Regions from separate parts of the Homo sapiens genome. Here regions 1 and 3 are each reported to be linked to region 2. The links are microRNA targets in miRTarBase. Many come from high-throughput screens and were not tested one by one. Region 2 holds a microRNA gene; each other region holds the end of a gene's coding sequence.

The links. The annotated mature microRNA hsa-miR-3173-5p reads UGCCCUGCCUGUUUUCUCCUUU and lies in region 2 at 1,932-1,953, shown strand. An mRNA with a match to its seed (bases 2 to 7 or 8) in the 3' UTR can be bound and repressed. Matches are read on the target gene's strand: a 7mer-m8 pairs with bases 2 to 8, a 7mer-A1 pairs with bases 2 to 7 and ends in A, and an 8mer does both.
Region 1: miRTarBase lists MTFR1L as a target of hsa-miR-3173-5p. Seed matches in the 3' UTR shown: 7mer-m8 at 834-840 and 7mer-A1 at 879-885.
Region 3: miRTarBase lists COX6C as a target of hsa-miR-3173-5p. The part of its 3' UTR that is shown has no 7-base or 8-base seed match.

Annotation. Positions count from the first base shown.
Region 1 is chr1:25,831,600-25,834,855 of GRCh38, forward strand. It overlaps MTFR1L (mitochondrial fission regulator 1 like), which reads left to right. Exons shown (of 7, transcript NM_001099625.2): 7 at 322-1,339. The coding sequence ends at 427. AUNIP (aurora kinase A and ninein interacting protein) reads right to left here. Exons shown (of 3, transcript NM_024037.3): 3 at 2,407-3,256. Among named protein-coding and RNA genes, the nearest start is that of MTFR1L, 13 kb to the left of the region's middle.
Region 2 is chr14:95,136,684-95,139,913 of GRCh38, reverse strand. MIR3173 (microRNA 3173) reads left to right here and starts at 1,928; the gene lies at 1,928-1,995. All of the region lies in intron 1 of DICER1 (dicer 1, ribonuclease III), which reads left to right.
Region 3 is chr8:99,884,797-99,888,052 of GRCh38, forward strand. It overlaps COX6C (cytochrome c oxidase subunit 6C), which reads right to left. Exons shown (of 4, transcript NM_004374.4): 3 at 2,694-2,822. The coding sequence ends at 2,709. Among named protein-coding and RNA genes, the nearest start is that of COX6C, 7.3 kb to the right of the region's middle.

The DNA of each region.
Region 1 (3,256 bases), not on the chromosome of region 2:
CTAACAGACTGATGGTCCTTTACTTTGCCCATACTTTATAGCTATTTCAGGAAATAGTAAAGCATTCTAGTTAATAGATGAGATCTGGAACCAGCTAGTTTGGTTCTGAACTCTGGATTCACCGCTTACTTGCTGAGTGACTAGTGACCTTGGGCAACTTGTATAACCTTTCTGTGCTTCAATTTCCTTATCTGTGAAAGGGAATTGTAATGGCACCTACCTCGTAAGATTGTTGTGAGGATTCAACGAGATAATGTATTCAAAAGATATACAGCACTACACAGGAAAGAGTAAGTACTCAAGCTATTATTGTGTCTCTAGGAACCGGAGTTTATTGAAGGAGGAAGACCCTGCTGTGCTTATCTCTGAGGTCCTAAGGAGGAAGTTTGCTCTAAAGGAAGAAGATATCAGTAGAAAAGGAAATTGACAACCCTCAGCTCTGCAAACTCAGTCTCATGCTCCTGGAATACCTTCAATAGCTGCCTTCCTCACCGCAGATGTTTCTGCCTCTTAAGGATAGATCTTCTGCAACAGTCTTGCTGACAAGCTAGAGCTTGGACTGAAAGAGAAGAGCTGGATTATATATTTCCCAGACTTCAAACCCTAGCAGAAGCTAAGGCTTGTGATTTGACCTGAGACATTTGTTTCAGGTAATCGTGTAGAATGAAGTATCTTAGTTTAAAGGGTAAGAGAGAAGTTGTTTCTGGTTTTTCCTTGCCCCTGTGTGAAAATAGGTCCTAAATGACTGACTTCACTGCATTAGACCCTATAGCTGGTCTCACAAGACACTTTGTGCCCAGCTGTCACTCACTCAGCAGCTTCCTTGCAGCAGAGCAGGGCTGAGGGGAAGGGGCTATGAATGTTTGTATACATGTTCACAGGGCACGGAAAATCTTATGCTGCTCCGTCATAAACCTACACCAATGCCCAGCAATCACCCTCCTCACTTCCTTGTCTAGATGTAGAGGTCAGGCTGCTGAACCAGCCAACACATGGGCTACTGCTGGGAAGCCTGGGCTGTTTTTTTTCTTAAACACATTTTATATTACTGAACAACCAAATCTACCCTCCACGGCCCTGAGGCCTTATCAGTTCCACTGATTAAAAACTTTCTCTTCCACGGACTTTAAGCCCGGTAGGAAAGAGAGAGGAGGAGGGGGAAAGAGCAAACCATCTTTCTTCCAGGCCCTTGACTGCTCCTTTGGGCTGGGCCAAGGTTTGTATGTACCACACCATGCATGACTCAGATGCCCTCAGGTCCCTTTCTCTATGGTATGTATACTGCTTGTGTTTGGGTTGAAGCACTACCTGACATTAAAGGAAGGACTTGGAGAGAGAATGCATTTGCTGTGTCCATCTCTTGAGTTGCGATTACCCAGTATCCTTCAGGGGCATAGGATTATTGTTAATTTTAAGGTGTATGAACTTAAACAGGCTACTGGCTTCTCCTCTTTCCTTATAAGGTCCTGCCCTTCTAGGGGGTTTCTTCCCCCTTTCTGTAGAGATTTTGCCCTATACTCTTTTTCTTTTTTTTAGAAACAGTATCTAGCTCTGTCATGCCGGAGTGCAGTGGTGGGATCATTAGCTAACTGCAGCCTCCAAACTCCTGGGCTCAAGTGAGCCTCCCACCTTAGCCTCCTGAGTAGCTGGGACTACAGGTATGCACCACCACACCCAGGAAATTTTTAAATTTTTTTGTAGCGATGGGGTCTTGCTATGTTGCCCAGGCTGGTCTTAAACTCCTGGTCTCAAGCAAACCTCCCACCTCAGCCTCCCAGAGCGTTGAGATTACAGACATGAGCCACCGCACTAAGCCCCATACATTCTTAAAAGCAGGTCTTCCAGGAAAATGACTGGAGAGATGACATACACGATAAAAGTAGAATTTAACATTTAAATTAGGCCAGGCACAGTGGCTCACACCTCTAATCACAGCACTTTGGGAGTTCAAGATCAGCCTGGGCAACAAAGCAAGACCTCATCTCTACAAAATATTTTAAAAATAATTAGCTGGGCATGGTGGCATGTGCCTATAGTTCAGCTACTCGGGAGGCTGAGGTGGGAGAATCACTTGCGCCCAGGAGGTCCAGGCTGCAGTGAACCGTGTTCATGCCACCACACTCCAGCCTGGGCAAGAGAGCGAGACCGTGTCTCAAAAAAATAAAATTTAAGTTAAAAAAAAAAAAAGAAGCAGTTCTCTTATAACCTTGCAAGTTTGTCCCTTAGAGGTTGTTTAAGCCTCTTAGATACCACATCAACAACAAGGAATAATGCCTTGGGTAGAAGACAGGTCAAACTAGACTCTGGTTCAGATCAGGCTCAGGGCAATGACAGCATATACTATTACAGTGTTGCCTTTTCAAAAATAAAATTGGTAATGGTTTAATTACCAATTATCACAAGAGCCACTTTGTAAACATTTATTTGGATTCATAGTTTTACAAAGGGGATTCCCTCCTATCTTGTGGGAAAAGGGTAACAGAGTCACATCCAGATTGTTGTACAGCTCAGGCTTTTTAAGGGAGATATTTAAACATAGAGTATATAACTTTAAAGTGCTGTACAGTTACCACAAAAATAAAATAGGAAACTAGCACCATTCTACCTCTCTTCTCTCCACACCTGGGTTGTGGGGAGATTTGCTAATCACTGAAAAAAAAGGGTCAAGAGTAATCATCCCAAGCTTAGGCTGATGTGGGTTAAGATCAGCCAGAGATTAAAAGCTCACACATCTGGCTGGGCGCGGTGGCTTATGCCTGTAATCTCAGCACTTTGGGAGGCTGAGGTGGGCGGATCAGGAGGTCAGGAGATGGAGACCATCCTGGCTAATATGGTGAAACCTCGTCTCTACTAAAAATCCAAAAAAAATTAGCTGGGCGTGGTGGCGCATGCCTGTAGTCCCTGCTATTCGGGAGGCTGAGGCAGGAGAATCGCTTGAATCCGGGAGACAGAGGGTGCAGTGAGCTGAGGTCGCACCACTGCACTCCAGCCTGGCAACAGAGCGAGACTCCATCTCAAAAAAAAAAAAAAAAAAACACATCCATAAGCAAGGTCCCAGTCAGACATCTGGAAGGGCAAAGAGATGGCTCTGTGCAGGCTGAGTAAAAGGCACTTTCATAGAGATAAATACCCACTGTGCTGCCTCAGTGTTCATCATAGACTCATTCAGGGAATTTACCAGCCACCACCTTCCTGAGGGAAAGCCATGATGCCAATCCCACTGTCTTAACAATGGTACTGCCCTTTATTTACACAG
Region 2 (3,230 bases):
AAATAGAAAGTGCATTACTGGGGCCAGTTATTGTCCACTAAATGAATGAAAATTAATTTAAACATTGTAACCTTATGGAAAATATAATTGGAAGGGTTAAATTGTTGTTCTTTATGTCCTTGTACATCCTCTCTCCTGCACTCATCTCTCAGGGCTGGTAGGAGTGGGATAGATGTGTGTTTCCAAACCGAATAGAAATATATCTTGATCCATCCATGATTCTGTTCTGTATATTATTGTGTGGACATTCATGAGTCTCTAATTCAGTTTGTCAAATATTTACTTAAATGTATATACAGAACATTGTAGCAGGAAATTTAAGAGGTGCAAAGAATGAGACTCATGTCTTGTTCTTATGGAGCTGTGCTCCAGTAAAAGAATAACATGTATGTTGTGTATGTGTGTCTATGAATAGCTCTAAAAATCTGTGATAGAAATTATGAAAGGCAAATAGAAGCTGTTTGAGGTTTTAATGTCACTCAGGTGGACATTGTTTTCATTCTAACAACCTGCAGTTTTTGTTTACCATGTCCTGGATGTGGTTCTGTACAGTGGGTAATACAGGTAAGGGTAAGATATGCAGCTCCTATATCCAAGGAAATTCTAGTCTAATTGGTCATATTTTAGTGAGAACAGAGTTTTAAGAGAAATTTTCTAAATAAGAATTCATATAAAATTACAGAAGTACATTTTATGGATTAAGACTATACCCCAAGCCTCTGTAGTATAACTGCTAGGATCACTTGGATTGAGCACATAGGATTGAAATACAGGATTAAACACTTTCAGTTGGTCAGTCAGGGAGGATGCATAATATGCTATAGGCTTTCAGCCAACAGGGATTACTCTTCTGTTGTGGAAATTGCTGGTGAATGGTGATGAGGCAGCAATAGGATAGCATTCTTTTTTTTTTTTTTTTATTTTTTTATTTATTTTTATTTTTTTTATTATACTCTAAGTTTTAGGGTACATGTGCACATTGTGCAGGTTAGTTACATATGTATACATGTGCCATGCTGGTGCGCTGCACCCACTAATGTGTCATCTAGCATTAGGTATATCTCCCAATGCTATCCCTCCCCCCTCCCCCGACCCCACCACAGTCCCCAGAGTGTGATATTCCCCTTCCTGTGTCCATGTGATCTCATTGTTCAATTCCCACCTATGAGTGAGAATATGCGGTGTTTGGTTTTTTGTTCTTGCGATAGTTTACTGAGAAGCTGGGTGAATAATCTGAACGTAAGGTTACAGGTCGGCAGAAGTCAGGCAGTCATGAGTGGGGGCAGTACTTTTCAGAGTACATTTGGGACTAGATATCACAGAGTGTAGTGCTTTGCTTAATTTCCTTTTTAAATATCAACTTTTTAATGAATTCCATTCCAGTAGTTTGTATTATTTTCTTACACATGGTTTTTTGTGAGAGCTGATAGAAACCTTAATCTTTTCAGGTATTTTTGGTTAGAGATGTTATTTCTGTATTTCTTTATTGTTTGATATTTATTTTTACTATATAATGTATCTATTTTCTCTTTATTTAGAGCCTAAATGTTGATAAATGTAACCTTTCATTTCTCTGTTTTTTTTTTCCACTTTTTTTCTCAGATTGATTCTTAGAAACCAGCTACCTATCATTTTTTTCTAAACCCTGTGAAAGTTTTAGGGTGGGGTAGGGCATTTATGAGAAATGTTGTGTTTGCTAAGAAAAAAAAAAAATCTCTGTCCTTTGAAATGCCAGGAACAGAACCTGGACACTGAGTGAATTTGCAACTCCTCCTTTTCCAAGCTCTTTACCTGCTGGTTTGTAGGAATAGGATCCACATACTTGAGTGAGGTTGGTGTCTTGAGGTGAAACCGGGCCTGAGAAACATTGGAGGTCTAGGGCTTATTTTCCAGATAGAATTGAGTCTTTGTTGGTCTTGGGCCAGCTTCCCTGCCCTGCCTGTTTTCTCCTTTGTGATTTTATGAGAACAAAGGAGGAAATAGGCAGGCCAGGGAAACGATCTCTCTCCCTCTCTTGTGCCGAGGAAGAACTGTCCAGATTTTTCCTCAATTTGTTTCCGAAACAAGCGGCTTTGCAGTTTCAAAAAGAATTTACTGATAGCAGAAAGTGAAAAAAAGTATTCCTAAGGACAAATAAGGAGAACATTTTCAAAGTCTTAGAAGCTTCTTGGTAGAGCTCATCCCTGGTTTTTTGGAGTCTAAGACCCTTGACTTTTCCCTTACAAACAAAGCTTTTCACCTTGCTTGGGGTCTGGCTGCAGTACTTGTTCATTATCTCAATATTTGTGGCCTGATGGCTTTCTGCTTTGATCCCTGACTTTTTTCCTTTCCCCTTCCCCTTTCCCTTCCCCTTCTCCATTCCCTTCCCCTTTTTCTTTCCCTTTCCCCTTTCCCTTTTCCTTCCCCTTCCCCTTTCCCTTCCCCTTCCCTATCCCCATTCCTGTCCCCTTTTTCTTTCCCTTTCCTCTTCCCCTTTTCCTTCCTCTTATTCCCTTCCCCTTTTTCTTTCCCTTTCCCCTTTACCTTTTCCTTCCCCTTCCCCCTTCCCTTTTCCTTCCTCTTTCCCTTCCCCTTCCCCTTTCCCTTTCCTCTTCCCCTTTCCCTTTTCCTTTTTCTTTTGCCTTTCCCTTCCCCTTCCCCTTTCCATTTTCCTTTTTATTTCCCCTTTCTCTTCCTCTTCCCCTTTCCTTTCCCCTTCCCTTTTTCCTTTCCCCTTCCCCTTTTCCTTCTCCTTCCCCTTTTCCTTCCCCTTCCTCTTCCTTTCCCTTTTCTTTCCTTTTCCCCTTTCCCTTGCTTTCCCTTTTTCCTCCTTTCCTTCTTTCCCTTCTTTCCTTTTTTTCCTTTCCTTTCTGTTCATATCTGTTCTTTGCTTTCCTCTTTTCTACTTATACCTTTTACAGGAAGTGATAATAGTGATTTAGAGAGTGTCATTTGGTTTGCTTTTATCCCAGAATATTCAACTCAAGCTAGCTTGGATAGTTAAGGAATTTGTTGGCTCAGTTAATTGGAAAGTCCATTGTTAGGCTGGGCTTTGAGTTTGGTTGATCCAGCAGTTTATTGATGTCATCAATGACCCAGGTTCTTTATTTTTGCCATCTGCGGTGCTGGTTTCATCCTAAGGCTGGATCTTTTCATGGGTCTGTGTAGTGTAATTGCAGCAGCAAATGGGACTAATAATTTCATGAGTCATCTTTAGAGGGAAAGAAAGACAACTGCTTCTCTTCAACCAT
Region 3 (3,256 bases), not on the chromosome of region 2:
GCAACACTAAAAGAAATTAAAGATGCAAACTACTGCTAAAAGAAATTAAAGATACAAATAAGAGGAAAGACATCCTGTGTTCATGGATTGGAATACTTAATATTGTTACGATGTCCATACTACCAAAGTAATCTACAGATTTAATGCAATCCCTATCAAAATCCCAATGGCATTTTTACAGAAATAGAAAAATCCATCCTAAAATTCACAGACTCTTAAGGAACCACAAATAGCTAGAGCACCCTCCGGGTGGGGTGAAAGAAAGAACAAAGCTAGAGGACTCACACTTACTGATTTTAAAGCATACTACAAAGCTACAGTGTAGCAGTCATCCCTTATTTGTGGTTTAACCTTCCACCGCTTTAGTTCTACCCACAGTCAACTGTGGTTCAAAAACAGGTGAGTACAGTACAGCAAGATATTGAGAGATCACATTCACCTTTTATTACTATACACTACAATTGTTCTATTTTGTTATTGTTGCTCATCTCTTACTATGTCTAATTTATGAGTTAAACGTCATCATAGGTATGTACGTACACGAAAAACAACATAATATATACAGGGTTTGGTACTATCTGTGGTTTCAAGAATCCACTAGAGGGGTCTTGAAACATATCTTAGATAAAACGGACTACTGTAATCAAAACAGTGTAGTACTGCCCCGAAGACAGACATACAGACTAAAGAAATAGCCCAGAAATAAACTCTCGCATTTAGAGTCAAATGATTTCACCAAGGTACCAAGACCACTCCATGGAAGAGGACAATCTTAAATGATTTCGGGAAAACTGGATACCACATGTAAAAGAATACAGTTGGATCTTTACACCCTACACAAAAATTCAAGTGAATCAAAGATCTAAACATAAGAGCTAAAACTATAAAAGTCTTAGAAGAACACATAAAAAAGACTTCATGACATTGGATTTGGCAATGATTTATTGAATATGACACTAAAAGCACACAGAACAAAAATAAAAATAAATTCGACATCAAAATTTCTGTGCATCAAGGGACACAACAGAGTGAAAAGGCAACCTATGAAATGGGAGAAAATATTTACAAATCATATCTGATAAGGGGTTAATATCCAGAATATATACAGAACAACTCAACCAATAAACAAAAAACCAAATTTGAAAATGAGCAGAACTGAATAAACATTTCTCCAAAGATAACATACAAATGGCCAATAAGTACATGAAAAGATGCTCAAGAACACAAATAATCAGGGAAATGCAAATCAAAACCACAATGATACCACCTCATACCTATTAGGATGGCTACTATCAAAAAATACCAAAATTATGCCAGGCACAGTGGCTCACGCCTGTAATCCCAACACTTTGGGAGGCCAAGGTGGACGGATCGCCTGAGCCCAGGAATTCAAGCACAGCCCAGGTAATATGGTGAAACCCTGTCTCTACTAAAAATAAAGAAGTTAGCCAGGTGTGGTGGCACATGCCTATAGTGCCAGCTTCTTGGGAGGCTGAGGCAGGAAGATCCCTTGAGCCTGGGAGGTTGAGGCTGCAGTGAGCCATGATCGCACTACAGCACTACGGCCTGGGTGACAGAGGGAGACCCTGTTAAAAAAAAAATTAACAAGTGTTGGGGAGGATGGAAAGAGTGTAAAATGGTGCAGCCACTATGGAAAAGGGTATGGCAGTTTCTTAAGAAATTAAAAATCATATGATCCAGGAATTCCACTTTTGAATATACCCCAAAAGAATTGATAGCAAGGCCTTGAAGGAATATTTGCATGCCTAGGTTCACAGCATCACTCACAACAATCAAAAAGTGGAAGCAACCCAAGCATCTACTGATGGATGAATGGATAACAATGTGACACAACTAAAATAGATCATTCAGCTTTAAAAAGAAAGGAAATTCTGACACATGCTGTAACATGGATGAACCTTGAGTACACTACGCTAAGTGAAATAAGCCAGTCACAAGAAAACAAATACTGTGTGATTCTACTTATGAGATGCCTGGGGTAGCCAAATTCTTAGAAAGTAACACAGTGGCTGCCAGGGTCTGAGTGGAGGTGTGAATGGGTTGCTTAATGGATATAGGGTTTCAATTCTGTAAGATGACGAGTTCTGGAGACTGGTTGCACAACAATGTGAATGAACTTAACACTACTAAACTGTACAATTAAAAATGGTTAAGATGGCAAATTTTATATTATAGATGCTCCTTAACTTACCATCAGGTTACATTCTGATAAAACCATCATAAGTTTAAAATATCTTAAGTTGAAAATGCATTTAATACACCTAACTTACATCATAGCTTAGCCTTCCCTACCTTAAATGTGCTCAGAACACTTATGTTAGCCTACAGCTGAAGAAAATCATCTAACACAAAGCCTAGCTTATAATAAAACACTGAGTATCTCACACAACACTACAGAGTACAGCATCAGCTGTTTACCCTTGTGATTATGTTTCTGACTGGGGGATGTGGTCATTGGTGCTCCCCCACATCACAAAAGTATTGTGCCACTTATTGCTCATGTGGACAAAGATCAAAATTCAAAGTATGGTTTCTACCAAATGTGTATCACTTCCACACCATCGTAAAGTCAAAAAATCTTAAGTCTAAACATTGTGAGGGACAGTCACCTGTATTTGCATTTTACCACAATTAGAAATTTTTTTTTAAGTAACTTCAAATAACCATATTACCTTTATATTCCAAGATTACTTTACACTCTGAAAGATACCAGCCTTCCTCATCTCCTCAAAATCTTTCATGACATCGTAGTTTCTGTAGAAATCTGCGTATGCCTTCTTTCTTTGATCAGCCACACGAAACTAAAAAGCAACCATCCATTAGAGTTTATTTTTCAGATTACTGGAAATTAGATTCCAGATTATAATATATAAAGACAAGGTAGAACACATGTTTTTGTTCACCCTTTAATTTAAACCCTACATTTCCTAAGGGGTGGAGGTGGTGACAGATAAAAAGGAAGACAAAGTCTAAGAAACTGCTAAATTTGCAAAGAAAAGAATGGGGAATAAGGTGTCTATTTTGTTTTGTTCGAGGTTTCCGTACACAAAGGGTGGGTGGGGTTCAACAGAGAAAGAAAAAATGAAGATTCAAGACAAAAATGGAAAGTTTAAGTGACTTATTATTTTTTTTAAAGATGGGGTCTCGCCTGTAGTCCCAGCTACTCGGGAGGCTGAGGCAGGAGAATGGCGTGAACCCGGGAGACGGAGGTTGCAGTGAGCCGAGATCTCACCAC